Linked DNA regions of Homo sapiens: regions 2, 3 and 4 are each linked to region 1. The links come from fine-mapping of genetic effects on gene expression. A gene starts in region 1. Each other region holds a variant in brackets. All regions are shown on one strand. Distances are from middle to middle. Region 1 holds the start of MRPL45 (mitochondrial ribosomal protein L45). Region 2 overlaps MRPL45 (mitochondrial ribosomal protein L45). Region 3 has its middle 76 kb from the start of TBC1D3K. Region 4 has its middle 7.8 kb from the start of EPOP.

What was found. PIP is the estimated chance that this variant, and not a neighbour inherited with it, causes the effect.
Region 2: its variant is fine-mapped to the expression of MRPL45 in left ventricle (GTEx, PIP 0.97).
Region 3: its variant is fine-mapped to the expression of MRPL45 in unexposed skin (GTEx, PIP above 0.99).
Region 4: its variant is fine-mapped to the expression of MRPL45 in transverse colon (GTEx, PIP 0.95).

What each region holds. Positions count from the first base shown.
Region 1 is chr17:38,292,312-38,300,415 of GRCh38, reverse strand. It overlaps MRPL45 (mitochondrial ribosomal protein L45), which reads right to left and starts at 3,248. Exons shown (of 8, transcript NM_032351.6): 1 at 3,167-3,248; 2 at 1,790-1,967; 3 at 948-1,065. The coding sequence starts at 3,232. It overlaps LOC105371760 (a long non-coding RNA gene), which reads left to right and starts at 4,811. Exons shown (of 3, transcript XR_934732.2): 1 at 4,811-4,922. RefSeq lists enhancers at 2,813-3,363, 3,364-3,912.
Region 2 is chr17:38,316,710-38,324,813 of GRCh38, reverse strand. It overlaps MRPL45 (mitochondrial ribosomal protein L45), which reads right to left. Exons shown (of 8, transcript NM_032351.6): 5 at 6,079-6,127; 6 at 4,047-4,196; 7 at 2,515-2,688; 8 at 1,603-2,305. The coding sequence ends at 2,219. GPR179 (G protein-coupled receptor 179) reads left to right here. Exons shown (of 11, transcript NM_001004334.4): 11 at 1-243. Among named protein-coding and RNA genes, the nearest start is that of GPR179, 23 kb to the left of the region's middle. RefSeq lists an enhancer at 3,504-4,441. The variant C/G (reference allele first, on the strand shown) is at 3,801.
Region 3 is chr17:37,844,359-37,852,462 of GRCh38, reverse strand. It overlaps the pseudogene YWHAEP7. Among named protein-coding and RNA genes, the nearest start is that of TBC1D3K, 76 kb to the left of the region's middle. RefSeq lists an enhancer at 7,771-8,104. The variant C/A (reference allele first, on the strand shown) is at 4,608.
Region 4 is chr17:38,678,746-38,686,849 of GRCh38, reverse strand. No RefSeq gene overlaps it. Among named protein-coding and RNA genes, the nearest start is that of EPOP, 7.8 kb to the right of the region's middle. The variant T/G (reference allele first, on the strand shown) is at 3,605.

The DNA of each region.
Region 1 (8,104 bases):
GAGGTGGGAGGACTGCTTGAGCCCAGGAGTTCGAGACCAGCCTGGGCAACATAGTGATAACCCGTCTCTACAAAAATTTCTTTTAAAAATTAGCCAGGTCGGCTGGGCGCAGTGGCTCACGCCTGTAATCCCAGCACTTCAGGAGGCTGAGGTGGGTGGATCACGAGGTCAAGAGATCGAGACCATCTTGGCCAACATGGTGAAACCCCGTCTTTACTAAAAATACAAAAATTAGCTGGGCGTGGTGGCATGCGTCTGTAGTCCAGCTACTCGGGAGGCTGAGGCAGGAGAATCTCTTGAACCCGGGAGGCAGAGGTTGCAGTGAGTTAAGAGTGAAACTCCGTCTCAAAATAAATAAATAAATAAATAAATAAAGGGCTGGGCGTGGTGGCTCTCACCTGTAATCCCAGCACTTTGGGAGGCCAAGGCGGGCCTCCTGAGGTCAGGAGTTCAAGACCAGCCTGACCAACAGACCAACATGGAGAAACCACATCTCTACTAAAAATACAAAATTAGCCGGGCATGGTGGCACATGCCTGTAATCCCAGCTACTCAGGAGGCTGAGGCAGGAGGATCATTTGAATCCAGGAGGCGGAGGTTGCGGTGAGCCAAGATCGTGCCATTGCATTCTAGTCTGGGCAACAAGAGCGAAACTCCATCTCAAAAAAAAAAAAATTAAATATATGATTAAAAAAGGATCCTATACACTCCAAAGTCAACTCCCTAACTGATATGACAAAAATTACCAATAAAGGCAGGGATGCTGAGAATCAGGAAGCCCACATTATTCTGCATTAAATACAGACTCTAGTACAAAGGAGAAAATACCATCATGTTATTAAGAGAATGACACCCAACCCAATTAACCCAAAAAGGTCTCTTTGGGATAAAGTAGCAACAAAAAATTGTTATTCTAATACCAATACCCAATTGTCTCAGACACCTACGACACTTGTGATGCCATAGTCTTCTTCATTCGTTCAGTTCTCTCTATCAGTCCCTCCTTTGAAAGAGATGATATGCGTGCATCACCCTCAGGAGGAACATAGGCATCAAATATACCAGCTGTAATAAAGGAAGAAAAAAATTAAGAAAGTGTTGAAAGATTGAGAAAAACTCATAAAATTGAAGTAATGTAAAATTGGGAAGGATTGTGGATATGAAGTAGACTAATGAAACAGACTTCCATGTAGAGAGAACTATGTTACACTAGAAAAAAACAAAACAAGGCCGGGCACAGTGGCTCACACCTGTAATCCCAGTACTTTGGGAGGCCGAGGCGGGCGGATCACAAAGTCAGGAATTCAAGACCAGCCTGGCCAAGATGGTGAAACCCCATCTCTACTAAAAATACAAAAATTAGCCGGGCATGGTGGCAGGTGCCTGTAATCCCAGCTACTTGGAAGGCTGAGGTAGGAGAATCGCTTGAACCCAGGGGGGCAGAGGTTGCAGTGAGCCCAGATTGTGCCACTGGGCGACAGAACGAGACTCTGTCTCAAAAAACAAAACAAAACAAAACAAAAAAAGCCAGAAAGATTTAAGTCTTCTCTCAGAGCCTCAGTTTCTACTTCCACAAAATGGAGAAATTTCACTCTTGCCTTCTAGGGACAGTGTGAAAGTAAGTTCAAAGAACAACTTCATGATATATAGTGTATATAAGGTTAATCATTATTGAGGTTGAACTGACTTCGTGCTTAATTAAATATTATCAATCATAGTCCAAGTCATCCCAAGTTCCAGAAGATCTCTGACAGAAGGATCCCAGGTCAGGGTCCCAGAAATACCTCACCTGTACAGGCCAGATGTATGGAACGGTCCGATTTTTCTGGAGGAATAACCAATCCTGCTTTCCGGGCATGTTGCATAAACTCCTTTTCTGTTTTAAATTTAGGTTGATAAATAGGAGGTGTGAAACGTTTTTTAGTTCTTACTGGAACTATAGCTGCGGACTGAGTCACCAGAACTGGCTGGAAGGTAAAGGAAAGGTTAGGAACCTAGAAAAAAGATCTACTATCTTTTACAAACTCTAAGCAAAGCACTATAGAGAGGGAATATCCAAAGAATGCTTCAGGAACAATTATAAAACAATATCACAGGGAAAAAATGCATTAGGACCTTAATACTTATGGGTGTCTCTAAATAGAAGACAGTTAGCAACCTTTATTAACATCACATTTACTAAAGGCTTTCCTTTAGAACTTCCCACAGTACAGGACTATGCTAACTCCTACGGATACTGAGTTGATCAAAGCAAGTTTCAAAAACTGATGGTGATGGGGAAACACCAACTCAATACTGAAATGGGCAGAATACTATTCTTTATTATTTTTTGAGGCAGATCGCTAGCCTAGAGTGCGATGGCACGATCACGGTTCACTGCAGCCTTGACCTCCTGGGCTCTAGCTATCCTCCCACCGCAGCCTCCCAAGTAGCTGGGACTAAGGAGTGCGCCATCGCATCTGGCTAATTTTAAAATTTTTTTGTAAAGACCAGGTCTTATATGTTGCCCAGGCTCATTTCGAACTCCTGGGCTCAAGCCATCCTTCTGCCTCGGACTTTCAAAGTGCTGGGATTACAAGTGTGAACCACCGCGCCGGGCCCTGAATGCTATGCTTAAAGCATAAGCAAAGTCCTCTTGTAGGCATCTGCTCCATATGTACTCGTGATATTTTGCTCATCCTATCGGGAGTCTCGCTGTAAACTTTATTCTGTCGTTTTAGCACCCAACTGACCAATAAACCCTCGAAAGATCAGGAGATCTTTTCTCTCTGATCATGAGGTTTGCTCAGACGGGGCAGTGACAATATGGGACGCCCTCATTTTCGGCTACTCTTCAACGTAGTTCACTTATAAGAATCGAAGATTAGGGAGTCCACCTTCCAACCCATTACTTGTCTCTCCTTTAATATCTCCTCGCCAGACAGACCCAAACCAATCCGGAAAAACTTAATATCCGTTAATTCACTCGCTCTCATGGCCCTGTCTAGGCTATCCCCATTCGACCACTGAGCTCCGCAGCTAGGTCCTGTCCACCTAAGCCTCTTCCCCGGCCTAGGTATGACTCGTATTGTCCCAGCTCACCAAGGACAATTGCACAGAGAGTATTTCCCTCGACTCTGTCCTCTCCTGTAGCCCCTAGGGTCCTATCGGCCCCGTCCCTACCCACCTGCCGAGACCACCAGCCCAAAAACCTCGATAAACAAGAGAACCCTTGAGGTATGGGGGCTGCCATCTTGTTCCCGCAAAGGCCGCCGGGAAGGGAGCTGAGAGTGAAGAGCGTCGGGTAGGAGAAAAGCCGCATAGGGTGGAGCTAGCACAGGAGTGGAATTTTCCAGGGAGCGCGCCCTCCGCCGAAATGTGAGCAGCGAGGACGCGCACGTGCTCGCGGGAGTGGGGGAGGGTGGAGTAAGGAGGGCGGAGTACGGCCGCGCGTGCGCAGGGAGACAACGTTGGGCGTAGGGTGGAACGAACTGTTGTCCCCCGCCAGCGAGAGAGCGCTTGAACGCGAGCTGCGCCTGCGCCCGAGGCTTTCTGAAGGCCGGGGAATGGGCATTGCTGTATGCTTGGCACATTGCCGTTTATTCCATTAGTTAAAAAAGGAAAAGGAGGCCGGGCGCGGTGGCTCACGCCTGTAATCCCAGCACTTTGGGAGGCCGAGACCGGTGGATCACCTGAAGTCAGGAGTTCGAGACCAGCCTGGCCAAAATGACGAAACCCCGTCTCTACTAAAAATACAAAAATTAGCCGGGCGTGGTGGCACACGCCTGTAGTCCCAGCTGCTTGTAAGGCTGAGGCAGGAGAATCGCTTGAACCCAGGAGGCAGAGGTTGCAGTGAGCCGAGATCGCGCCACTGACTCCAGCCAGAGCTAGACTCCGTCTAAAAAAAAAAAAAAAAAATTAGTCGTAGGGTGGAACGCACGGTTGTCATGCGCCAGCAAGAGAGCGCCGGGCTTGGTGGCAGGCGGCTGTAGTCTGAGCTACTTGGGAGGCTAAGGCAGGAGAATCCCTCGAACACAGGAGGCGGAGGCTGCAGTGATCCGAGATCCCGCCACTGCACTCCAGCGTCGGTGACAGAGAAAGACTTTGTCTCAAAAAAAAACAAAAAAAGAGATTGACTACTGTCTTCTACTATGTTTACTAAAGCAGAAGACACGTGAATTGACAAAAACATTTGTGATTTGTCATTTCGGAAAGGAGTCACAGAGCAATTACGTAATTTACTTAAGGTTAGATAGATGATAACTGGCAGAACCGAGATTTGAATCTAAGCAGTCTAATTCCAGAACCCATGCAGGTAACTGCTACGTGCTGCTTCATGTTAAGTTGTTAAAGGATTCGTGATGTTGGGATCACCCTGGTAAATTCAGTAGTGTAAACGTTGCTGAAAGGCAGACACTTTCCACACTTAGCCGTTGGTTATTATTCTGCCAATTACAGCTTACAGAGTTCTCATCTACAATATTTTGCAATAAGTTAGGAGCTACAGGCTGTACATACAAGAAATTTCAGGCTGAAGTAGAATTGCTACAAAGGTCGAAGCAAAGTGCTGGGGACTATCAGAAGAACTGAAAGATTACTTTTGGGTTTGGAGATCACGTGTTGTTGTTGTTTTTGGAGACGGAGTCTCACTCTGTCACCCAGGCTGGAGTGCGGTGGCACAATCTCGGCTCACTGCAACCTCTGCCTCCCAGGTTCAAGCGATTCTCCTGCCTCAGCCGCCAGAGTAACTGGGATTACAGGTGCACGCTGCCATGCCCGGCTAATTTTTTCTAGTTTAGTAGAGACGAGGTTTCACCGTGTTGCCCAGGCTGGTCTCCAACTCCTGAGCTCCGGCAATCCGCCCACCTCGGCCTCCCAAAGTGCAAGGATTACAGGCGTTTTTTAAAGCTTGACTTCGCAGCTATATCGTACATTCTTATGTGGTAAGTATTTCCCTACAAGTTCCAGCCACAGTATTGAACCTATAGCACGACACATTAATAGTGACATGAAATTAGTGCTGTATGTATGTGTTGAAGAGTATGTGGGGTCGTGTGGGGTGGCTCACACTTGTAATCCCAGCACTTTGAGAGGCGGAAGTGGGTTAGATCCCTTGAGTCCAGGAGTTCAAGACCAGCCTGCCCAATATGGCAAAACCCTATCTCTACAAAAAAATTAAAAAATTAGGCCGGGTGCGGTGGCTCACACCTGTAATCCCTGCACTTTGGGAGGCCGAGGCAGGCGAATCACGAGGTCAGGAGATTGAGACCATCCTGGCTAACATGGTGAAACCCCGTCTCTACTAAAAATACAAAAAAAATTAGCCGGGCATGGTGGCAGACGCCTGTAGTCCCAGCTACTCCAGAGGCTGAGACAGGAGAATGGAGTGAACCTGGGAGGCGGAGCTTGCAGTGAGCCGAGATTGTGCCACTGAACTCCAGCCTGAGCGACAGAGCAAGACTCCGTCTCAAAAAAAAAAAAAAAAAAAAATAGCTGGGCATGGTGGCCCCAGCTACTGGGGAGGCTGAGGTGGGAGGATGGCTTAAGTCCAGGAGGCAGAGGTTGCAGTAAGCCAAGATCCCACCACTGCACTCCAGCCTGGGCAACAGAGCTATTCAGTGCCTATAGAAGCATAGGGAAACAAGAAAAAAGAAAAAAATAGAATATATGTTATTAAGCATTTAAATAAGCTATATCTGATTATTTAACAGACTCCTGTCCACCTACTCTAATCCCTAGAAAATAAAACATGATTTTTTTTTTCTCTTGAGACAGTTTTCACTCGTCAGCCAGGATGGAATGCGATAGCGCAATCTTGGCTCGCTGCAACCTCCATCTCTCGGGTTCAAGTGATTCTCCTGCCTCAGCCTCCCAAGTAACTGGGATTACAGGTGCCCACCACCACGCCCAGCTAATTTTTTGTATTTTTAGTAGAGATGGGGTTTCACCATGTTGGCCGGGATGGTCTCAAACTCCTGACCTCAGGTGATCCGCCCACCTCGGCCTCTCAAATTGCTGGGATTACAGGGGTGAGCCACCGTGCCCGGCCAAAACATGAATTATTTTTACTGGTATTCCCAACCAAAGTGAGGAAAGTTTACTCCATGGATGAGAGGTGTTTTTTTTGTTTGTTTTTTTGTTTTTTTTCAGATGCAGTTTCACTCTGTCATCCAGGCTGGAGTGCAATAGCTCGATCTCAGTTCACTGCGACCTCTGCCCCCTGGGTTCAAGCGATTCTCCTGCCTCAGTCCCCCGAGTAGCTGGGATTACAGGTGCCTGCCACTATGCCTGGCTAATTTTTGTATTTTTAGTAGAGATAGGGTTTCACCACATCGCCAGGCTGATCTCTAATTCCTGACCTCAGGTGATCCATCTGCCTCGGCCTCCCAGAGTTCTGGGATTACAGGCGTGAGCCACCGCGCCTGGCCAAGATTATTGATTAATGCAGAACATTAATATAATTTATCTTAGATTACTTCCTCCACCATTGAGTTTTATGTTAGCCTCACACAGTAGCCAACACATCCCAGATCATCTCTGCCCACCCTCTGATCAGTTTCTCAGTTAATACAAACTTGTTCCATATCAGCCTGGATGAAATAATGATAGGGGAGTCAATATCATTTAATTGCTTAGAGATGAGCTATAAGTTAGTTTTGTTGTTGTTTGATGAGCTACTGTTTTGGAAAATTCATATCTTCCTACCTCATCAGCTTCATGGAAAATTGGGAGCTGGCCAGGCACAGTGGCTCACGCGTGTAATCCCAGCACTTCGGGAGGCTGAGGCAGGCAGATCACCTGAGGTCAGGAGCTCAAGACCAGCCTGACCAACATGGAGAAACCCCGTCTCTACTAAAAATACAAAAAATTAGCTGGGCGTGGTAGCGGGCGCCTGTAATCCCAGCTCTTCGGAAGGCTGAGGCAGGAGAATTGCTTGAACCCGGGAGGTGGAGGTTGCGGTGAGCCGAGATCATGCCATTGCACTCTAGCCTGGGCAACAAGAGCAAAACTCAATCCCCCCCAAAAAAAAAAAAAAAAAAAAAAAAGAAGAAAATTGGGAGCTGTCTGTTAGAGAAGTAACACCAAAAGGATATTTCTTTTCTTTCTTTTTTTTTTTGAGATGAAGTTTCACTTTGTTGCCCAGGCTGGCGTACAGTGGGACGATCTCGGCTCACTGCAACGTCGGCCTCCAGGTTCAAGTGATTCTCCTACCTCAGCCTCCGAAGTAGCTGGGATTACAGGTGCCCGCCACCAAGCCTGGCTAATTTTTTCTATTTTTAGTAAAGATGGGGTTTCACCGTGTTGGTCAGGCTGGTGTCGAACTCCTGACCTCAGGTGATCCACCTGCCTCATCTTCCTAAAGTGCTGGGATTACAGGCATGAGCCACCGTGCCCAGCCAAAAAGGGTATTTCTTAATCCTACAATCTTAGTAATTCACATTTCAGAAAAAGCAAGATAAAAAGATCTTGTCACGATGATGGGAGCAAGAGAAGAGAACTCATTGTGCAAGTAGAGGAAGGAATCGATTGTTAGGGGCTCAGTCTTGGCAAAGAACACTCTTGCACATAGTAGACACTCCAATATTTATTTATACAATAAGCAGATGTGAAGAATTCCAGTTGAAATATGATGGGGCAGGCCGGGCGCGGTGGCTCACGCCTGTAATCCCAGCACTTTGGGAGGCCGAGGCGGGTGAATCACGAGGTCAGGAGATCGAGACCATCCTGGCTAACACGGAAACCCCATCTCTACTGAAAATACAAAAAATTAGTCGGGCGCGGTGGCAGGCGCCTGTAGTCCCAGCTACTCAGGAGGCTGAGGCAGGAGAATGGCATGAACCCAGGAGGCGGAGCTTGAAGTGAGCAGAGATCTGGCCACTGCACTCCAGCCTGGGCGAAAAAGCGACACTCCATCTCAAAAAAAAAAAAAAAGAAAAGAAAAGAAAAAGAAATATAATGAGGCAGAAGGAAAAGTTGATTTCCTGTTTTTCCCAGTGAAGTGGGTTACTGGAATCCCTTGTTGTCGTATTGAAATTTCTAAATGGAGCCCGAAGAGGGCTGGGTGTGGTGGCTCACACCTCTAATCCCAGCACTTTTGGAGGCTGAGGCAGGCGGATTGCTTGAG
Region 2 (8,104 bases), 24 kb before region 1:
ATTCTCTTACCTAGGGCCCTTATTCTGGGCTTTTGGAGCAGTAATTGAAGTGTGTTGTTGTTCTGGGCTCTGGCTAGTTAGCCTTACGGCTTCTGAGCTAAAGTGGATTTTGCTGTGCACCCCAAAACAATCCCATTGGGTCTGGTCTAGCTGGAAACAGCAAAGTTGCCGCCAAACACACTCTTGTGAAATAAACCATGGGGTGGGGGGGGCGGGGCGGAAATAAAGAATGCTTTTTCTTGACATTGCAGTTGGCTCTAGCTTATTCATGATTATCTTTTTTTAACATTTTTAAACAGTAACAGAAGATAGATAAGGAAAGAACAATGCCTGCTCCAAAGCTCAAGGTGCACTGCAGTCTTGGGACTTTGGGTTATCTGGCTAATGCTCTGCTAGTGCCCAGGTCAGTGCTGACACTGCAGATGGTCTCTGCCTGGTCCTTCTAGCCAGCCCCTCACATCTGGAGGCCATTTGCTCAGCTGGATTTAATCCCAAGGGGAAATGGAAATTGCACTCATCCTCTGGCTCTCTGGTGGCAGCTACTGCTTAGCTCCTATTTAGGATTATCTAGAGAACCCTGAGATATCCAGGGGAGTGGGATGAAACAGCTTATTTGAAGCACTATTTTTACATATTCAAAGGAATCAATGTATCATTTACCCACTAAGTGTGCTTTTTTTTTTTTTTTCATTTCTTTGCTTCCTTACCCTGCAAGGATTATTTCCCCTTCCTCCATACTCCCTGGCAGTGGGTCCTGCTCAAAAGCACGTCCCTTCTCATTTTGCCTTAATCCAGGGCTCAGGCAAATAGGATGTGACCAAACCTCACTTGGGCAGTAATTAAAGTGATGTACACTTTAAGCCAAAAAGGTTGGGACTAAGCAGCATGATGAGAGTGGTTGATGAGAGACACCAGGGCTGTCTCTTCCCTAAATATACATACCTTTGTTTCCATAGTTAACACTTAACAGGCCAGGCATGGTGACTCACACCTGTAATCCCAGCACTTTGGGAGGATGAGGCAGGCAGATCACCTGAGGACAGGAGTTCGAGACCAGCCTGGCCAACACATAGTGAAACCCCATCTCTACTAAAAAAAAAATTCAAAAATCAGCCAGGCATGGTGGCACATGCCTGTAGTCCCAGCTACATGGGAAGCTGAGGCAGGAGAATAGCTTGAATCCAGGAGGTGGAGCTTGCAGTGAGCCGAGATCGTGCCACTGCACTCCAGCCTGGGCCTGACAGAGCAAGACTCCATCTCTAAAAAACAAAATAAAACAAAAACAAAGTGATTTCTCTTGTCACACTCAGATGGCCTAGGACACATGGGCATGTGAGGTCCCACACCCTTTTAACAGCCCATCTGGAGCTAAGGAACAAGGAGGGGCTGGCCTATTTTCCTCTGCACAGGTTCATACTTTTGTACACTCACCTTCAATACTGGGCTGGAAAGAACAGTCCCCATCTCCAAATGGTGCTAGAAATCAGGGAACCAAGTACTGCAGATAAATTTTCCAAATGTAACAACCTCTCCATGGCCCCTGCCTCCCCCAACACTTCCTGATACAGCTAATAATTAAGAACACAATCAAAGGCTAAGGGATAAATTATTTCTTTGGATTTATATTTTTCCATAAAATGCAAATGCTGATTCATCAGTGAGTCAGTATATGAAAAAGGGCCTCTTAAATGTCTTATAAACACTAATTATTCTTCCCCAGTCTTCATTTCCTTAAAGTCACATCGCTCACAAGTAGGCTCATCTTCCACTTCTGCCATCTGAAGGCTGGTCCATGCCCAGCCTGAACCAGGGGAAATGTGCAGAACTCACCAAAATTTTTCCAACACCCTGACAACATTTCATTTCAAACTCTGATCCCTGCCCTGTGATTACAAAGAGGATGCTGCTGGTTGTCTCTCACAGTCCCTGCTGTGGGAAAAACTGATATCCAATGTTCTCTGAAACATACTGTCTTTCATCTAGACTCAGAAGCTAGACATAAAATTTAAAAAAGAAGAGTGTCCATGGCCATGTTATACCTGCCACCTGCTAGGGCCCAGTCATCAGTCATGGTTGCTGATGATGAGACTGCTGAAAAGACCTGAGCAGGATGGGAGAGAACAAAGGTAGTTCTTTTTATAGCATGAGGGGAATGGGAGACTTCAAAGCTTCCAGCAGCCTCATCACCCAGGCTTCACCCTAGAAGTCATTTTTGTCATCAGGCTAGCTGAGGCTTCTGGGCCTCTCCTTGTGCCTCTTCATATTCTTCTTCTGGTTTCAGCTGAGGGCCAGGGATCATCACCGTCTGAAAGAGTAGGACGCCAGGTTACCCACCAACCAAGCCCATGGCTGACCCAGAAGAGCTTCATCCCTTGCTCCCACCCACCCACCCACCCGGCCTTCCCTTCCTGGGTGGTGCATCACCCCCTCTCGCCACTAGGTGGAGCCCGACAGAGTGGCTTAGGAGACCACGAGTAGTGCCTCAGCTCTCTTAAACCATGCAAGCCACCTTACCTTAAGGATGGGCTGCTTAGGGGGTGCCCATGGGGGAACGATCTTGGTATGCATTCTCCAGCTTCCATAGGGGTTTGTCAACTGCTTTTCGAATACAACATACTCCAGGACATCCTTGGGTACATCTTCCTGTCCATACATCAACCGGCCAAACCGGTCATAGATGGCCAGAGTCTGCAAGGATAAAAGCAAATCTGGCCTCTTAGTTTTTTTGGTGTGTGAGTGTGAGTTGTTTGTTTTATTGCCATACAACCTTTTTTTTTTTTTTGAGACAGAGTCTCACTCTGTTGCCCTGGCTGGAGTGCAGTGGCATGATCTCAGCTCACTGCAACCTCTACCTCCTGGGTTCAAGCAATTCTCCTGCCTCAGCCTCCCAAGTAGCTGGGATTACAGGCACGTGCCACCACTCCTGGATGATTTTTTTTGTCTTTTTTAGTAGAGATGGGGTGTCACCATGTTGACCCAGCTGTCCAACTCCTGACCTCAGGTGATCCACCCGCTTCGGCCTCTCAAAGTGCTGGGATTACAGGCGTGAGCCACTGCACCCAGCCTGCCACACAACCATTTTTGAAACCACCATAAGAAAAATCTTTTTAAATTTTTTTTTTTTGGAGACGGAGTCTTGCTGTTGCCCAGGCTGGAGTGCAGTGGTACGGTATCGTCTCACTGCAACCTCCGCCTTCCAGGTTCAAGCGATTCTCCTGCCTCAGCCTCCTGAGTAGGTGGGACTACGGGCACACACCATGATGCCCGGCCAATTTTTCTATTTGTAGTGTACACAGTGTTTTGCCATGTTGGCCAGGCTGGTCTTGAACTCCTGACCTTGTGATCTGCCTGCCGTGGCCTCCCAAAGTGCTGGGATTACAGGCATGAGTTACTGTGCCCAGCCAGAAAAAATCTTAATGGGTAGAAAAAAAGTTATCTCGGAATTCTGAATCTAGGACTATCTGATCAACTACTGACACTTTATTCTTACAAGTTCTTTGACAGGGGGCAGAGAGACGGGGAAGTCAAGACCAAGAAGGAGTGGGGCACAATGGCTCATGCCTATAGTCCCAGCACTTTGGGAGGCTGAGGTGGGTGGATCACTTGAGCTCAGGAGTCTGAGACCAGCTTGGGCAAAATGACAAGACTGGTCTCTACAAAAAATACTAAAATTAGCCAGGCATGGTTGCGTGCCCCTGTAGTCCCAGCTACTTGGAGGCTGAGGTGGGAGGATTGCTTGAGCCCAGGAGGTTGAGGCTGCAGTGAGCCACAATCACATCACTGCACTCCAGCCTGGGTGA[C/G]AGAATGAGACCCTGTCTTGGGGGAAAAAAAAAAATCAGGAAGAGTGGGAGAGAATATCCTCACACATCTTAGTAGAGCCAACATGTAACAGTGGGAAGGGGACAGCGGCACAGCAAGGAAGACAGATCACAGTGTACCTTTTATTACTGTCTACAGTCCTGGGCAACCATACCCAGCACTCCAGAGGGAGGTGCCCAAGCTCAGAGTGAAAAAAAGCTGGGAGGAAGGCAGACGAGTGCCTCTACCTGCCGGGTGTGCATGCGTACGGTGATCTGGCCGTACACGTTGCCCTGGTTCATCATACTTGAACAGCGAACTTGAACAACATGAGAGGGCTCTAAAGATTCCACAAAGCTCCAGCGGACGGTCTTATATTTGATGTCCCAAGTCATGTCCTAAGGGCAAAGGAGAACAAGTTCAACTGCATTTTTCCCTCCCTTTAAGGAAGCTGGTGCTGCCACACTGCTCTCACTTCCTGCAAGACTACAGCCAACAGGCAGCACGTTTCCCACCACATGCTCTCTTGTGCCTATTTTCTCTTGCACCTTCTCAAGTTTTGATTAAGCTATTGGTCAAGCTTACCTGACAACTCTCTCTTCATCTATATCACAACTTCAGACCCACCTTCCTCTTTGAGGACCCTTCTTTAAATCAACAAAAACCACATTCCAAACTGCCAGCATGCCCAATACACCAACATCCCTCCCATACACTTTCATAATGTGGCAATTATTGCATGTACTTGTGTTGACTGCATATATATTTTTTTTCCCCACTCACATATTAACAATGAAAAGTGGGAATTTTACAGGGCTATAAGGGCTAAACTGCTAGGACTGGGGAAGACTGATAGAAACTGAAGTTCTACTGATAGAAACCCAAGTTCTTTTTTTATTTATTTTTATTTTTGAGACGGCAATCTTGCTCTGTTGCCCAGGCTAGAGCACAGTGGCGCGGTCTCGGCTCACTGCAAGCTCCGCCTCCCAGGTTCACGCCATTCTCTTGCCTCAGCTTCCCGAGTAGCTGGGACTACTGGCGCCCGCCACCACGCCCGGCTAATTTTTCTGTATTTTCAGTAGAGACGGGGTTTCACCATGTTAGCCAGGATGGTCTTGATCTCCTGACCTCGTGATCCGCCCGCCTCGGCCTCCCAAAGCGCTGGGGTTACAGGCGTGAGCCACCGCACCCGGCCCCAAGTTCTTATTCTTGGATCTCTAACTGAACCACAAAGTTCTTATCCTTGGGGATCCCTCCAAGTGCTTCACACTCCTGTTACCACTCAATATAAGCCTCATGAACTCTTGTTAAATCCCTCATGATAGTGCAGGCGTGTGGAGATGTGGCCTAGTATGGCCCATATCCAAGCCTCAGGACCTATGCTCCTGCAGTGTCATTACTGCTTGTTGAGGGACTTCTTTCATTTGCCAGGGCCCTTACCAGAGTCTGTGTCAAGACATTGTCATTCAGCTACAAGCAATGAACCTTCAGCCTGTGCCTTAAACTTCCTACACTCTCAAAACTGATCCTTCTTAAGAAAAACCAGGCAGGGCGCAGTGGGGTTCATGCCTGTAATCCCAGCACTTTGGGAGGCCGAGGCGGGCGGATCACCTGAGGTCGGGAGTTGGAGACCAGCCTGACCAACGGGAGAAACCCCGTCTCTACTAAAAATACAAAATTAGGCCAGGTGCGGTAGCTCACACCTGTAATCCCAGCACTTTGGGAAGCCGAGGTGGCCGGATCACGAGGTCAGAAGATCGAGACCATCCTGGCTAACACAGTGAAACCCCGTCTCTACTAAAAATACAAAAAATTAGCCGGGTGTGCTGGCGGGTGCCTGTAGTCCCAGCTACTCAAGAGGCTGAGGCAGGAGAATGGCGTGAACCCGGGAGGCGGAGCTTGCAGTGAGCCGAGATAGCGCCACTGCACTCCATCCTGGGCGACAGAGCGAGACTCCATCTCAAAATAAATAAATAAATAAATAAATAAATAAATAAATAAATAAATAAATAAATAAAAAATTAGCTGGGCATGGTGGCGCATGCCTGTAATCCCAGCTACTTGGGAGGATGAGGCAGGAGAATCGCTTGAACCTGGGAGGTGGAGGTTGCGGTGAGCCAAGATCGCACCATTGCACTCCAGCCTGGGCAACAAGAGTGAAACTCTGTCTCAAAAAAAAAAAAAAAAAGAAAAGAAAAGAAAAGAAAAGAAAAACCAGAGACGCCATCTAGAATCTGCCCACTCAGTCACCCCACAGTTCTAAGGAGGATGAGAACTTACTGGAAAACAGTGTTCAGTTACCAAGGTATGAAGCCGGTCATGGTCTGAGCTAGAAAAGAAAGCAATAAATATCATTGACTATTGCTCTTATAATACCCTGTATGAAGACTGAAAATGGTCCTGAAAATGGAAAACAATTCATTTTTACAAATGTTTTCGGCACATCTAGTATAAGCCAGGTATAAAATATGCTAAATTCTAGGGGCACAAACACGAACAATAATGTGATTTACCAGAAAACCCTAAGATCTAGTAGCAGAATAAAATTATATTACAAATAAAAAATAAATTTAAAAAAAATTATGTTTAAATCTAAGGAGTAGGAGGCAATTTCTCTAAAATTACCATATATCCTTAAGATGGGTACCCTCACTGGGACATAGGACCTGATTTTTGCTCTAAGCTGGTATGAGCAACAAAGTTCAACACAAGTAACAATCAAAAGCTTGTTTTATCTCCTCTTGCCTCTGAGCCAGCATCAGTACCATCTGGCTTGGCCTTATATCTTTTTTTTTTTTTTTTTTTTTTTGAGACAGAGTCTCGCTCTGTCGCCAGGCTGGAGTGCAGTGGCGCGATCTCGGCTCACTGCAACCTCCACCTCCCAGGTTCAAGCGGTTCTCCTGCCTCAGCCTCCTGAGTAGCTGGGACTACAAGTGCACGTCATGACGCCCACCTAATTTTTGTATTTTTAGTAGAGATGGGGTTTCACCATGTTTTTAGCCTTATATCTTACACGCTCATCTTTGAACCTAGTCAAAGATAATCATGTCTTTCCTGGTCTATTTTCTCTCCTTTATCTTGTTGCTGCCAGAGTGGCCGAGTCATGCTGACTCTATATAGTAATGGTTAAAAAAACACAAAACAGCCGGGCATGGTGGCTCATGCCTGTAATCCCAGCATTTTGGGAGGCCGAGGCGGGTGGATCATGAGGTCAGGAGATCGAGACCGTCATGGCTAACAAGGTGAAACCCCATCTCTACTAAAAATACAAAAAAAATTAGCCGAGAGTAGTAGCAGGCGCCTGTAGTCCCAGCTACTCAGGAGGCTAAGGCAGGAGAATGGCATGAACCCGGGAGGCGGAGGTTGCGGTGAGCTGAGATCACGCCACTGCACTCTAGCCTGAGTGACAGAGCGAGATTCCGTCTCAAAAAAAAACAAAACAAAACAAAAAAAACACAAAACAGACAACAAACCCTAGCTCCTATAGATACAAGATTTTAGGAGGGTTCCTAGCTGATGAGTCTCAAACCTAAGGCCATAGATTAGCTTCTTTCAGATACACACGACTTTTCCCCAGTTTACTATGAGCAGTTTAACTCTTTGTCCCCTTTGAAAAATCTTGCTCTCTAAGCCCAGAATGGGTAAGGGATTAGTTCTAACATGTCTATCTGCTTCCCTTTCATCTCTATTCCTAATAGGAAAGATTCCAAGTCATTTCCTCTACTGTAGGAACAGACTGAGCTGTGGTGACAACTACCATGATGACCATCACTGGCACCTCTGAGTGAACTCTTCCTCCCCACTATCCTGGCATAGAAGTCTTCAGTGGAAATAAACTCCATTTTCCATGAGTTCACTTACTATTTTGCAATAATGTAATACTACTTCTACTATAAACATTTAGAAATGGTGGATTTATGGGCCGGGTGCGGTGGCTCATGCCTGTAATCCCAGCACTTTGGGAGGCCAAGGTGGGCAGATCACGAGGTCAGGAGATCAAGACCATCCTGGCCAACATGGTGAAACCCTGTCCCTACTAAAAATACAAAAATTAGCCAGGTACAGTGGCACACACCTGGAGTCTCAGCTATTCAGGAGGCTGAGGCAGGAGAATCGCTTGAACCTGGGAGGTGGAGGTTGCAGTGAGCCAAGATCGCGCCACTGCACTCCAGCCTGGCAACAGAGCAAGACTCCGTCTCAAAAAAAAAGGAAATGTTGGATAAAATGTAAAACAGACAAATACACTTTTGCTTTTTTTTTTTTTTTTTTTTTTTTTTTGGATTGCACCACTGCCCTCCAGCCTGGG
Region 3 (8,104 bases), 450 kb after region 1:
TGTTAGAGCAAATAAACCAATTCAGCAAAGCGCAAAAATCAGTTGCATTTATATACGATAGCAATAAACAGTCCAGAGAAAAGAAAATCATTGTAATAGCATCAAAAAGAATAAGGCACTTTACAATAAATTTATCCAAGAAGGTGAAAGACTCACACACTGAAAATGATAAAACCTTGCTGAAAGTAATTAAAGAAGACATAAATAAATGAAAGACATCCTATGTTTATGAAGGAAGACTTAATATTATTATGATGTGTCAAGACTATCCAAAGCAATCTACAGATTCAATGTAATCGTTCTGAATATTCCAATGGCATGTTTGATTTTCTTTCTGAAATAGAAAACTCGTTCTAAACCTCATAGGGAATTTCAAGGCACCCTCCCTGAATAATCAAAACAATTGTGAAAAAGAAGAAGAGTTGGAGAACTTGGCCGGGCGTAGTGGCTCACGCCTGTAATCCCAGCACTTTGGGAGGCCAAGGCAGGTGGATCACAAGGTCAGGAGATCGAGACCATCCTGGCTAACACAGTGAAACCTCGTTTCTACTAAAAATACAAAAAAATTTGCCAGGCGTGGTGGTGGGCACCTGTAGTCCCAGCTAGTCAGGAGGCTGAGGCAGGAGAATGGCGTGAACCCGGGAGGCAGAGCTTTCAGTGAGCTGAGATCATGCCACTGCACTCTACCTGGGCAACAGTGAGACTCCTGTCTCAAAAAAACAAAACAGGCTGGGTGCAGTGGCTCACACCTGTAATCCCAGCACTTTGGGAGGCCCAGGTGGGTGCATCTCTTGAGGTCAGGAGTTCGAGACCAGCCTGGCCAACATGGTGAAACTCCATCTCTATTACAAATACAAAATAGCTGGGCATGGTGGCGTGCACCTGTAATTCCAGCTACTCGGGAGGCTGAGGCAGGAGAGTCACTTGAACCCAGGAGGCAGAGGTTGTAGTGAGCCAAGATCACGCCGCTGCATTCCAGCCTGGGTGACAGAGTGAGACTCTGTTTCAAAAAAAAAAAAAAAGGAAAAGAAAAACCAAAAACTGTGATACTAGCATAAGGACAGATATCTAGATCAATGGGGTGAAATAGAGGGCCCAGAAACAAACCCTCACGTCAGTGGTCAGTTGAGTTTTGAAAAGGGTGCCAAGATGTGCTGGGCACAGTGGCTCACACCAGTAATCCTAATACTTTGGGAGGCTGAGGCAGGAGGATCACTTGTGGTCAGGAGTTTGAGACCACCCTGGCCAATATGGCAAAACCTTGTCTTTACCAAAAATACAAAAATTAGCCAGGCGTGGCGGCGCATGCCTGTAATCCTAGATACTCGAGAAGCTGAGGCACGAGAATCACTTGAAGCTGGAAGGTTCAAGTTGCAGTGAGCCGAGATTATTCCACTGCACTCCAGCCTGGGTGACAGAGTGAGACTCTTGAGAAAGAAAGAGAGAGAGTTGAGGTTGCAGTGAGCCAAGATCACTCCACTGTACTTCAGCCCGGGTGACAAAGTGAGACGAGAGAGAGAGAGAGAGAGATAGAAAGACAGAGAAAGAGAGAAGGAAAGAGAGAAGGAAGGAAGGGAGGGAGGGAGGAAATAGACAGAGAAAAGAAAAGAAAGAAAGGAAAGAGAGATGTGCCAAGACCATTTAATGGGGGGAAAAACAATCTTTTCAATAAACAGTGCTGAGAAAACTGAGTATATGTAAAAGAATGAAGTAGGACTCTTACCATACACCATATATAAATTTAACTCAAAATGGATCAAAAACATAGGAGCTAAAATCATGAAACTCTTAGAAGAAAACATAGGGGAAACCCTTGAAAACATGGGATTCAGCAATGTTTTCTTGGATATAACACCCAAAGCACAGGCAACACAAGAAAATAGATAAATTGATCTTCATCAGTTGAAGAACTTTCATCAAAAAACACTATGAAGAGAGTGACAAGAGGCCAGGTGTGGTGGCTCATGCCTGTAAATCCCAGCATTTTGGAATGCCAAGGTGGGAAGATCAGTTGTTCCCAGGAGTTTTGAGACCAGCCTGGGCAACACAGGGAGACCCCCATCTCTATAAATAAAAAAAAATAAAAAATAAAAAATTAGCTGGGCATGGTGGCATGTGCCTGTAGTCCCAGCTACTTGGGAGGCTGAGGTGGGAGGACCACTTGAGCCCAAGAGGTCGAGGCTGCAGTGAGCCATGATTACACCACCGCACTCCAACATGGGTGACAGAGTGAGACCCTATCTCAAAAGAAAAGACCAAAAAAAGTGTGAAAAGACAACTGACAGAATGAGAGAAGATATTTGCAAATTGTATGTATAATGAGGGATTAATATCTAGAACATATTAAAAAAACTCCTACAACTCAACAATTACAAAAACAAGGAAGCCAATTCAAAACTGGGCAAAAGGCTTAGACATTTCCCCAAAGAAGACAAGCACACATGAAAAGAAGCTCCACATCACTGATCACACCAGGGCGGTGGCTCATGGTGGAGGGAGAATGGTTTGAATCCAGGAATTTGAGACCAGCTTGGGCAACATAGTGAGATCCCATCTTTACAAAAAGTAAAATAAAACTCAGCCAGGCATGGTGGTGCACACTTGTGGTCCCAGCTACTCTGGGTGGGGCGCCGAGGCAGGAGGATCGCCTGAATCCAAGGAATTCAAGCTTGAAATAAGCTATGATTGCATCACTGCACTCCAGCCTGGGCAACAGAGCAAGACCTTGTCTCAAAGAAAAGAAAAAGAACTCAGTCTAAACTCAATTTTCATCCTTCTGTGTTCCCTACACATTTGCAAGATACCACACCATTATTCATCATTAAACAGCAATGGCTGCATAACTTTCTAGCCTTCAGATGGCCATAGTGAAATTTATTCACCCTTTCTTGGTCATGTAGGTCATTTCTCTCTTTTTTTTTTTTTAAGTGTCTTGCTATTGGCTGTTTATTAGTCTTTGCTTTCTGAATCATTTCTGCTTCGGGTCCTGTGGCCCTGCTTGGCTCCTGCCCCTTCTTTCCATTGGCTGCCACCTCTCCCTTCTTCCTTTCCCACTGGGTCAGGGACTTCCTGGGAAAGACACGTCTGGCTTTGTGTGCCTTGCCCATAGCCATGGTTTTACCATGTGATGTCACCACATCACTGACACTTGACTTAAGGAGATGAGTCATAACTTGTGCTGTCATTTCTCTCCTGAGAAGCTAAATTAAGAGATACAGGAAATGCTCCTGAGCAGCCCTGGAGAGCCAAACTGAAAAGCCACTCACACTTGGGGTTGAGGCCACCGATTTTATTTTATTTTATTTTATTATTTTATTTTATTTATTTTATTTTATTTTATTTTATTTTATTTTATTTTAGTATTGTAGTGTAGTGTAGTGTAGTGTAGTGTAGTGTAGTGTATTGTAGTGTAATTTTTGAGACAGGATCTCACTCCGTTGCCCAGGCTGGAGTACAGTGGTGCGCTATCGGCTCACTGCAGCCTCTGTCCCCCAGACTCAAGCGGTCCTCCTACCTCAGCCTCCTGAGTAGCTGGTACCAAAGGTGGATGCCACCATACCCGGCTAGTTTTTTGTATTTTTCGTAGAGACGCGGTTTTGCCGTATTGCCCAGGCTGATCGTGAACTCCTGGGCTCAACTGATCCACCTGCTTCAGTCTCCCAAAGTGCTGGAATCAAAGATGTCAGCTATTGTGACCGGAGGCTACCATTTTGCATCACCCATGTACTGATGGATCAGCCTAGAAAGTGTGTTGTGACAACTCAAGCGTCAGTTACAGATTAATGGGTAAAGAAATGGTGGTAGAGACATACAAGACAATAACATTCAACCCCAAAAAAAGAAGGGAATCTTGCCTTTTGCAGCTACATGGATGGACCTGGAGGACATTATGCCAAGTGCAATAAGCCAGGCACAGAAGGACAAATACTGCATGGTTCCTTTTTTTCTTTTTTTGAGACGGAGTCTCGCTCTGTCGCCCAGGCTGGAGTGCAGTGGCGCGATCTTGGCTCACTGCAAGCTCCGCCTCCCCGGTTCACGCCATTCTCCTGCCTCAGCCTCTTGAGTAGCTGGGACTTCAGGTGCCCGCCACCACGTCCGGCTAATTTTTTGTATTTTTAGTAGAGATGGGGTTTCATCGTGTTAGCCAAGATGGTCTTGATCTCCTGACCTCGTGATCTGCCCACCTCGGCCTCCCAATCACAAAGTGCTAGGATTACAGGCGTGAGCCACCGCGCCCGGCCGCATGGTTCCATTTTTATGAGGTATCTACAACAGTGAAACTCACAGAAGCAGTGTATACAATAGTGGTTAGCAGGGGCTGGAGGGTGGGCAAAACGGGGAGTTTTTCCATGGGTGTAAAGTTTCAGTTATGCTAGAGGAATACGTTCTAGAGATCTGCTGTACAACACAGGGCCTATGAATAACAATGCTGTACATTTCAAAATCTGTTAAGTGGGTAGGTCTCTTGTTGTGTTGTTACCACACACGGGAAAACCCAAAACAAAACCAAAACCAAAGAGACACAAGGAAACTTGGGGAGGTGTTGGCTATGTCTATTCCCTCAGGGTAGTGACAGTATCATGGGTGTTTGCAAATGTCCAGACTTA[C/A]CAAATTGTACACATTAACCACGTGCAGTTCTGTGCATATCAGTTATTCCTCAATAAGGCTGTTTCTTTTTTCTGTTTTTGAGACGGCGTCTCATTCTATCTCCCAGGCTGGAGTGCAGTGGTGCGATCATAGCTCGTTGCAGCCTTGAATTCCCAGGCTCAAGTGATCCTCCCGCCTCAGCCTTCAGAGTAGCTGGGACCACAGGCATGTGCTACCAGGCTTTGCTAATTTCTATTTTTTTAATTTTTTGTAGAGATGCAACCTCGATATGTTGCCCAGGCTCTTCTTGAACTCCTGGGCTCAAATTATTCTCCTGTCTTGGCCTCTTAAAGTGCTGGGATTATAGGCGTGAGCCACTGCGCCTGGCCTCCTCTCTCCCTTTTTCTGTTCAGGATAAGCCAGTGGTCCCTGGGGTCCTTTCTCATCTGTACCCCAGGAGTCTTCTGGAGCTGAACCGAGGCTCTTGCACACGCACATCTGGGCTTGGACCCAACATCATCAGAACTGACGCTCTAGACACATGGCTTCGACTCCTTTCATAAAACGTCCACATCAGCAGCTTTTACCCATTTGTTCAACAAATACTCATTAGCAGGCTCCTGTTCCCTCAGCCTTGGTGTAGGCCCTGGGGTTACTGGGGGTAATGGTGGGTATGGCCCCTACTCTCATGAAGGTTAGTGGTGAGAGAAAGGAAGAAATAACTACACAAGATGCTTTTGGTGATGAACGCCCTGAAGAACAGAAAGCAGGGAGATGTGGAAGTGCCTGGGGTTGGCAGGGCAGGCCTCACAGGGGCACTTGAGTTGAGACCTGGACGATAGATCACGTCAGAGTACCAAGCGGGGCTGTTTGTCACAAACAACAGTATCCCACTCTGGTTAACATAAGCAGAAAAGGAATGCATGGGAAGGGGTGTCAGGTGGTTCAGAGAATGAGCTGGAGGCCTGGAGAGTTGGGCCAGCACACAGGGGCTTCCTAAGGGAGTCGGCAGCCAGAACCTTCAGCGGAGTCATGCTGCAGAGGGATCTGGTGGGGACCGAGCTGCCGCCACCCTGGATACTGGATGCCATTTGGGCCTTGAAGGCCAGACCCTCTGGCAGGCCCCCAACAGAGGGACCTTCAACCTGGGCCTGCTGACCTGCCCCAGATGACAGGTTTGTCTTCTACTGGGCGTCTTTTAGAACTCAAGACGGCTTCCCATCTCACGCATAGTGAAAGCAACAGTCTTTATAAAGTTCTACATGTAGCTGGTGCAGTGGTTCACGCCTGTAATCCCAGCACTCAGCACTTTAGGAGGCTGTGGTGGGATTGCACGAGCCCAGGAGTTCAAGGCCAGCCTGGGTAACATAGCAAAACCCCATCTCTGCGAAATAAAAATTAAAAGAATAGCCAGGCATGATGACACATGCCTAGTCTCATCTACTCAGGAGGCTAAAGCAGGAGGTCAAGGCCGCAGTGAGCCATGATCACACCACTGCACTCCAGCCTGGGAGATACAATGAGAACCTGTCTCAAAAAAAAAAAAAAGTTTCTACATGACTTGGGTCCGATCCTCTGCCCCCATCCATTGTTCTTCCCTTGCCCCATCCTGCTCTGGCCACATTGGCCACTTTGCTTTTCCTCAGTCATGCCAAGCATGGCTCTGCCTTCAGAACCTTTTCCCCAGGTGTCCCCATTGCTCCCTTCCGCCCCTCCAAGTCTTAGCTCAACACTTACCTTGAGGCCCGCCCGACCTGCCTATTAAGCATAACCTTGCCTGCCCACCCAGTTCCTTTATGCTCATAGTTTTTGCTACTGGTCACCTTCTAACATACCATTATTGTGTCTTCATAGATGATCTCCCTGATGACTGTCTCTCAGGGGCCCAGGCAGGGACTGACGTTAGAGTCAATACTCCACAGCTGTTTGTTGAATGAGTAGGTAACAGCATGGCTGGCTGGTCCTGGTGCAGAAAGTCTTGGGAGGCCTCAGTTTGCGTCGTGCTTCTGTCATCAGCCAGCTGTGTGATTCTGCACAAGTATTTTAACCTCTCTGGGCCTCAGTTTCCCCATCTGTAACTTGGGGGCCTACCTCAAATGGTTCCTGGTGAAGAGTAACAAGACCATACCCTAAGTTCCAGTTGCCTTTTCCTCTGCCTTTCCACCTTCCCCTCCAGCCCCTCCAAGTCTCTTTTGTTAAGACAGGGTCTCACTCTGTCACCCAGGCTGGAATGCAGTGATCTCGGTTCACTGCAGCCTCTATCTCCCAGGCTCAAGTGAAACCCACCACAGCCTCCCAAAGTGCTGAGTGCTGGGATTACAGGTGTGAAACACTGCACCAGCTACATGTAGAACTTGATAAAGACTGGCTTTCACCGTGTATGAGATGGGGAGCCATCTTCAGTTCTAATGCAGCTGGGACTACAGGTGCGTGCCACCACACCCGGCTAATTGGTTTTGTGTTTTTTTTTGTTTGTTTTCTGTTTTTTTTGTACAGACGGGTTTCTCCATGTTGGCCAGGCTGGGCTCGAACTCCTGGTTTCAAGTGAACCTCCCAACTTGGCTTCCCAAAGTGCTGAGATTACAGGCGTGAGCCACCATCCCCGCCCCCTCAAAATCTGTTAGGACGACAGTCTCGCCAAGGCAATGCAGTCGCAATATGCCGTTTCCATTGCAATCACAATATGACATTTCCATTTACTTTGGATTATACGTCATTATGAATATTAACAAGACTTAAAAAGGACACCTTCGGGTATGTCAGATGAAAGTACAAAAATTGCGTTGTGGGGCTGCAGTTTGAGGACAGTGTCTGCAGCCGTCACGTGGTAGCAAAACGGTGTTAAGCATTGCAGGAGAGTCTGCATCTACGACAGCCAGAGTCCATACGTCGGGAGGTTTATTTGGTTTGAGAGGGAACAACAGGCAGGATGGGCACCACCCGGGGCTGGACAGTCAGGCGGGCTAGGGTGCGGTTCCTCGCACTCGCCACTAGAGGTGAGGCGTTTACCGCTTCAGGGCTGGAAGATGGGCCCTCGGGGACTGGCTACTGCTGGCCCGGGGCGGAAACCTGGGCGGGGGTTGGATGCGACGCCTCAGGCGGCCCCCCTGGTTACTGACACCCGACTTTGGCATGACTTTATTTGTTTTTCCCCCCATCAGATTTCCTGTCTTTGTGGGCTGATGGACTAGAGGAAAGATGCCTGTTGACGGTCAAAGGCAGAGCCTCTTCGGCAGCTTCTTAAAGCGCCTTCTTTAACAGAGAAACAATCTGCATGGGGTCTAGAACGGTTCTGAAATCCTGCTGAAGGTTTCGAAACTTCCTGGGGGGGGTCTCCTGCCAGAGCGCCTACGCTGCCTCTGGGCTGGCTGGCCAGTGAGCCCCGTCTCACAGCCTGACAGTCCCCACATCAGCCCGGACCGTCTTTCGGGACCAGCCCCATTTGCACAGCCTGAGCTGTAGAGGGCCCTGGAGTTCGGAGTTCTTGTCCCAACTGTGCCCCTGCAGGCCTGTTCCA
Region 4 (8,104 bases), 390 kb before region 1:
AGTAGCTGGGACCACATTTGCTCACCAGCTGGCCCAAGACCAGACTGGGCAACATGGTGAGACCCCGACTCTACAAAAACTTTTTTTTTTTGAGACAGAGTTTCGCCCTTGTTGCCCAGGCTGGAGTGCAATGGCACGATCTTGGCTCCTGGCAACTCCGCCTCCCAGGTTCAAGAGATTCTCCTGCCTCAGCCTCCTGAGTAGCTGGGATTACAGGGACCTGCCACCACACCTGGCTAATTTTGTATTTTTAGTAGAGATGGGGTTTCTCCATGTTGGTCAGGCTGGTCTCGAACTCCCAACTTCAGGTGATCCGCCCGCCTCAGCCTCCCAGAGTGTTGGGATTACAGGTGTGAGCCACCGGGCCTGGCCCCCCAAAAAATTTTAAAAATTAGCTGGGTGTGGTGGCACATACCTGTAGTCCCAGCTACTTGGGAGGCTGAGGTGGGAGGATCAGTTGAGCCCAGGAAGTTGAGGCTACAGTGAGCTGTGACTGTGCCACTGCACTCCAGCCTGGGTGACAGAGTGAGACCCTGTCTCAAAAAGAAAAGAAAAAAGGTTTTGAATACGGGCGTAACAGTCAGATTTGTGGCTTTGGAAAGATGACTGTGGGGTATGATGAGTCTTGCTGAGGCATTGACTTGGAGGGCTGGAGGTGTCGGGATGAGGACTGGGTTTCTGGCTGTGGAAGTGAATAGATGGGGGAGCCACACCTCAGGATAGGTTTCCTGGGAAGAGGGGGTGGAGTGGGTGCTGATGGTTTGGGATGGCTGAGTTTGAGGGGCTTTTGAAATGTCCGAGGTGGACTGAGTGGGCAGTGTGGTGTCTGGGCCAGACCTGAGAGGAAAGGGCCAGGCTGAACCCCGGGGCTCCAATGCTGACTGCAAAGTGAGCAGGGAAGAGTGTCTGGAGAGAGAAGAGAGTTCTGGACAAAGCCTTGAGGAGCCCCGACATTTTGGGCTGAAAAGGGGAGAGTGAGCCTGCACTGAAAAGCAAGAGGAAGCAGCCCCAGAGGCAGGACAGCAAGGGAGCTTGGTGTCCAGAAAGAAGGGGACTGGAAATGTCTCGGAGGAGGAAGTGGCCAGCCAAGCGGGCTGCCCGGAGAGGTCAGGGAGGCTGACAAGTGCCTGCCAGTTTCGATGAGATGGAGGCCACCGAGACTTCAGCAAGAGCTATTCCGGTGGCGGGCGAGGGTGGAAGCAGATGGAAGCGGGTTGGGGAGCAAGTGGGAAGTGAGAAAAGGAAGGCTACGTGCGTAGACAGCTCTCGGGGGAGCTTGGCTGTGAAGGGAAGAAAGGGATAGGGCTGTAGCCTCTGGGGTCAAGGAAGATTTAGCTTTTTAATGGGAGAGACCTCCTGATGGCGAGAGTGATTGGCTGTGCAAGGGAGATGAGATGACTCTAGGAAGGTGGATGAGAAAGGCCAAGGCCAGGGCACCCTGCTACTTAACAGAGGGGTGGTACGCTGATGGCTGGAAGTTGGCAGCACATGGGGCAGGCACTTGCTTGCCTTGGTTCCTTGCTCATATTCCTCTGCAGGTGGAATTCTTCTCTCTTCTCTCCTGCCTCCTTTGTTTTTTTTTCTTTTTCTTTTTGTTGAGATGGAGTCTCTCATTCTGTCGCCCAGGCTGGACTGCAGTGGTGCAATCTCGGCTCACGGCAACTCCCACCTCCCAGGTTCAAAGTGATTCTCCTGCCTCAGCCTCCTGCATAGCTGGGACTACAGGCATGCACCACCACACATGGCTAATTTTTGTATTTTTAGTAAAGATGGTGTTTCACCATGTTGACAGGCTGGTCTCAGGTGATCTGAGGTGACCTCAGGTGATCCATCTGCCTTGGCCTCCCAAAGTGCTGGGATTACAGGCATGAGCCACCATGCCCAGCCCTGCCTCCTTTGTATACTCCTGTTCAGCCTGTAGACATAGGAGGAAGATTACGTTCTCTGAAAAGACCTCCTTCCTCTTCCTCTAGGGTCATCCTCCTCTAAGATTCCAGGACCATGATCATCCCTCTATTGCTACTTCTTAGATCAGCTTGTAATGTCCATCTCCCCCACCAGACTGCGTCTCCAGCATCTCTGAGTCCCCAGGGCCTGGCCTGGGGCTTGCTACATGGTGGGTGCTCAGTAACTGTGAGGTAAATAAATGAATGAATTAACCATGGTCATATGGAGGAAGTACTGCAGGAGGAGGCAAGTCTGGAATAGTTCCTAAGTGAATGCGGAGAGGGATGGGACAAGGAAAGAAAGGAGGAAAGGGAAAAGGCAGCCTAAGCTACTGCCAAAGGCACTTACATTGATCATGAACTTCTATGCACCAAGCATTAATACGTGAGTTTCTCATTTTTTATTTTTTATTTTTTTCCCGAGACGGAGTCTTGCTCTGTCACCCATGCTGGAGTGCAATGGCGTGATCACGGCTCACTGTAACCTCCGCCTCCTGGGTTCAAGCAATTCTCCTGCCTCAGCCTCCCGAGTAGCTGGGATTACAGGTGCCCGCCACCGAGCCCGGCTAATTTTTGTATTTTTAGTAGAGATGGGTTTCACCATGTTGGCCAGGCTGGTCTTGAACTCCTGACCTCAAATGATCTGCTCACCTTGGCTTCCCAAAGTGCTGAGATTACAGGAGTGATCCACGGCGCCCGGCCATGTTTTTTCTTACCTATGGATAATAATTATTTTTTTTTTTTGAGACAGGGTCTTGCTCTGTCACCCAGGCTAGAGTGCAGTGGTGTGACCAAAGCTCACTGCATCCTCAAACTTTTGGGATTAAGGGATCTTCCTGTCCCAGCCTCCCAAGTAGCTGGGGGCACAGGCATGCACCACCATGCCCAGCTAATTTTTACACTTTTTGCAGAGATGGGGTCTTGCTATGTTGCTGCTCAGGCTGGTCTTGAACTCTTGTTGGACTCAAGTGATCCTCTTTCCTTTGTCTCTCAAAGTGCTGGGATTACAGGCATGAGCCACCTCGCCTAGGCTAGGTTTCTTCTTTAATCCTCACAATATCTTCAGAAGGAATATTATTTGCCTGTGCATTAGCTGGCTTCCCGAATCTACTAGAATACAAACTCCTTGAGGTGGGGGTTGTCTGTCTTGCTGCTGTGTCCCCAGTGCTAGAATAGCACCTGGCACATAGAGTTGCCAGATAAAACACTGTCAAATCTGAATTATAGATAAACAATAAGTAAGTTTTTTAGTATAAATAAATATGTTCTGTATATTTTGTGCTAATTTTTTTTTTTTTTTTTTTTTTGAGACGGAGTTTTGCTCTATTTCCCAGGCTGGAGTGCAGTGGCACTATCTCAGCTCTCTGCAACTTCCGCCTCGAGGGTTTAAGTGATTCTCTTGTCTCAGCCTCCCTTACAAGAGCCTCCTCTTTTGTAAGCTGGGATTACAGGCACTCGCCACCACACCCGGCTAATTTTTGTATTTTTAGTAGAGATGGGGTTTCATCATGTAGGCCAGGCTGGACTCAAACTCCTGGCCTCAAGTGATCACCCGCCTTCGCCTTCCAAAGTGCTGAGATTACAGGTGTGAGCCAGTGCACCCAGCTCTGTGCTAAATTTGACAATACTATACATAGCAGGTCCTTAATAAATATTGT[T/G]CCATAAATATTGTTTGATTAAATCTCACGGTGGGAATGCAGCCAGTAAATTCCAGACTATGGGAAGTCTAGAAGACAATCGTAGTATCTCCAATGACTAAATTGCAAAGAGGAAAAAAAAAAAGAGAGACAGAGAGAGATAAAGGGGGAATTTATAGATAAAAAGAGAGACATATTAACCACTTGAAATCCTTCTTTGGCTCCTAATTCAAATAAACTAAAAATTGTAAAGAAAAAATATTATAAGATAATTAGAAATTTGAACACTGACTGGCTATTTGATGAAGTTAAAGTGTGATTGTTAATTCTTTTTTTTTTTTTTTTTGACATGGAGTCCCACTCTGTCACCCAGGCTGGAGTGCAGTGGTGTGACCTCAGCTCATTGCAACCTGTGCCTCCCAGGTTCAAGCAATTCTTCCGTCTCAGTCTCCTGAGTTTCTGGGACTACAGGTGCATGCCACCATGCCCGGCTGATTATTTTTTGTATTTTTAATAGAGACAGGGTTTCACCATATTGATCAGGCTAGTCTCGAACTCCTGACCTTGGGTGATCCACCCGCCTTGGCCTCCCAAAGTGCTGGGATTACAGGCATAAGCCACTGTGCCCGGCCAATTGTTAATTTTTTTTAGGTTTGATAATAATGTTGGGGTTATGTTTACTTTTAAAGGGTCCTTATAGAAATATGTATTGAAATATTTAGGAATGAAATTATGTGATGTCTTGGATTTGCCTAAAAATAACATGGGGTTTGTTCTAGGTTGGGCACAGTGGCTCGCACCTGTAATCCCAACAGTTTGGGAGGCCAAGGCAGGAGGATTGTTTGAGCCCAGGAGTTTGAGACCAGCCTGGGCAACATAGTGAAACCCTATATCTACAAAAAAATACAAAAATTAGCCGTGCGTGATGGCACACGTTTGTAGTCTCAGCTACTCAGGTGGCTAAGGTATGAAAATCACTTGAACCCCAGAGGTTGCAGTGAGCCGAGGTCGCATCACTGCACTCCAGTCTGGGCAACAGAGCAAGACCTGTCTCTAAAAAACAAACAAAGCAAAACAAAATAATATGGGGTTTGGGGTTTGTTCTATATCTTATATTTTTCTTTCTTTCTTTTTTTTTTTTTAGATGGAGTCTTGTTCTGTCACCCAGGCTGGAGTGCAGTGGCACAATCTCAGCTCATTACAATCTCTGCCTACTGGGTTCAAGTTATTCTCCCACCTCAGCCTCCCAAGTAGCTGGAATTACAGGCACGAGCCACCACATCCAGCTAATTTTTTTGTATTTTTAGTAGACATGGGGTTTCACCGTGTTGGCCAGGCTGGTCTTGAACTCCTGACCTCAAGTGATCCACCTGCTTCGGCCTCCCAAAGTGCTGGGATTGATTACAGGCATGAGCCACCGTGCCTGGCCATTGTTCTATAATATATCTTTTTTTTTTTTTTTAATTGAGACGGAGTCTCGCTCTGTTGCCCAGGCTGGAGTGCAGTGGCGCAATCGCGGCTCACTGCAAGCTCCGCCTCTCGGGTTCACGCCATTCTCCTGCCTCAGCCTCTCCGAGCAGCTGGGACTACAGGTGCCCACCACCACACCCGGCTAATTTTTTGTATTTTTAGTAGAGACGGGATTTCACCGTGGCCTCGATCTCCTGACCTCATGATCCACCCGCCTCGGCCTCCCAAAGTGCTGGGATTACAAGCGTGAGCCACCGCGCCCGGCTATAATACATCTTAATTGTGGTGGTAACATGGGCATATTCCTTTGGCAAAACCATTTGAACTGTACACTTAAAATGTGCATTTTATTACATAAATCATACCTAAATAAAATTGTGTTGTTATTGTTGTTTTTTGAGACAGGGTCTCGCTCTGTCACCTGGGCTGGAGTGCAGTGGTGATTGCAGGTCCCTGCAGCCTGAACCTCCCAGGCTGAAGGGATCCTTCCACCTCAGTCACCTGAGTAGCTGGGACTAGCTAATTTACATGTTGTTGTTTTTGTTTGTTTTGGTAGAGATGGGGTTTCGCCATGGTGCCCAGGCTAGTCTCAAACTCCTGGCTCTAACAATCTGCCAGCCTCGGCCTCCCAAAATGCTGGCATTACAGGTGTGAGCCATCATACTGGCCAATTTGATTTTTTTTTTTTTTAAGTGAGGAAGTGGGTGGGTAAGAATGAAACAAAACTGACCATGAGTTGGTGAGTGTCGAAGCTGGATATTGGGTACTCAGAGGTTAATTATGTTTATTTACTTTTGTGTAGGTTTGAAATTTTCCATCATATAATACCTTTTTAATTGCATGAGGAAAGATGCTAGTCTTGTTTTACAAATAAGGAAACTAAAGCTTCCTGAGGTTAAGTAATTGCCCCAAAGTCACAAAGCTAGTAAAATGATGGGTCTGGAATGTGAACTGACCCATCTGAGCCCAGAACTTAAGCTGTTAACCCTGGGTGCAAATTCCCAGAGGAGGTAGAGGAACATGTGGGTTTATGCTAGGGGGTGATGCAGCCCTGCTGACTTAGGGAATTCTGGGACCAAGAAAGGTTAAATGATGGTGGCTGGGTGTGGCAGGGTGGAGAAATGGCTTCCCTCTTGGATTCATTGTTGTGGGGTAGCCTTGTGGTTACCAGAGCTAACTTAGGACTCAACTACCTGGGTTTGGGTTCTGGCTCTACCACTTGCTAGCAGTGTAACTTGGGCAAGTCACTTATCTCCCTCAATGTCCTCATTTATACCATGGATTATTTATTTATTTATTTTTTGAGACAGAGTCTTGTTCTGTCACTCAGGCTGGAGTACAGTCCTGCAATCTTGGCTCACCACAACCTCCGCCTCCTGGGTTCAAGCGATTCTTGTCTCAGCCTCCCGAGAATCTGGGCAGCTGGGATTACAGGCGTGCACCACCACACCTGGCTTATTTATTTATTTATTTATTTATTTATTTACAGACAGAGTCTCGCTCTGTCACCAGACTGGGGTGATGTGGCGCAATCTCGGCTTACTGCAACCTCCACCTCCTGGGTTCAAGCGATTCTCCTACCTCAGCCTCCCTAGTAGCTGGGATTGCAGGCACCCGCCACCACGCACAGCTAATTTTTGTATTTTTAGTAGAGATGGGGTTTCACCATGTTGGCCAAATGGTCTTGATCTTTTGACCTTGTGATCTGCTCGCCTTGGCCTTCCAAAGTGCTGAGATTACAGGTGTTAGCCACTGCGCCCGGCCTAGTTTTAAATTTTTTTAGTAGAGACGGGGTTTCGCCATGATGGCCAGGCTAGTCTCGAACTCCTGACCTCAGGTGATCCGCCCACCTCAGCCTCCCAAAGTGCTGGGATTACAGGCGTGAGCCACCGTGCCCAGCCTATATCATGGATATTAATAGGAATGTAAAATGGAATAGCCCGTTTGGAAAACAGCCTTGCAGTTTTTAGTTTAGTTTTGTTTTGTTTTGAGACAGGGTCTCACTCTGCCGCCCAGGCACAGAATGGCATGAATGTGGCTCACTGCAGCCTTGACCTGCTGGACTCAAGTAATTCCTCACCCTCAGCCTTCTGAGTAGCTGAGACTACAGGCACATGCCACCACTCCCGGCTAATTTTTGTATTTTGTAGAGATGGAGTTTCACCATGTTGCCCAGGCTGGTCTCAAACTCCTGGCCTCAAGCCATCAGCCTGCCTTGGCCTCCCAAAGTGCTGGGAATACAGGTGTGAGCTACCATGCCCGACCTTGGCAGTTTTTAAAAGAATTAAACACAGCTGGGCATGGTAGCTCATGCCTGTAATCCCAGCCCTTTGTGAGGCTGAGGCAGGAGAATCCCTTGAGCCGAGGAGTTTGAGACCAGCCTGGGGAATATAGCGAGACCCTGTCTTACAAAAAAAATTTAAAAAGAAATTCGCTGGGCATGGTGGCTCAGGCTTGTGGTCCCAGCCACACTGGAGGCTGAGGCAGAGGATCTCGTGAGCCCAGGAGGTCAAGGCTGCAGTGAGCCCTGACTGTGCCACTGCACTCCAGCCTGAATGAGACTGTGAGACCCTGTCTCAAAAAAAAAAGAAAAAGAAAAAAAAGGTTAAACATAAATGTAGCATATGACCCAGCAATTCCACCCTTAAATGTCTACTTAGGAGAAATAAAAACATATATTCACAAAAGACGTGTATAGCAAATGTTCATAACAGCATTATAGATAATAGCCAAAAAGTGAAAAACACCCAAATGTGATTGGATAAACAAAATGTGGCATATCCCTACAACAGACTACTACTCAGCAATAAAAAGGAACAGGCCGGGCGCAGTGGCTCATCCCTGTAATCCCAGCACTTTGGGAGGCTGAGGCAGGCGGATCACCTGAGGTCGGGAGTTCAAGACCAGCCTGACCAACACGGAGAAACCCCGTCTCTACTAAAAATACAAAATTTGCCAGGCGTGGTGGCGGGTGCCTGTAATCCCAGGTACTCGGGAGGCTGAGGCAGGCGTATCGCTTGAGCCCAGGAGGCGGAGGTTGCAGTAAGCTGA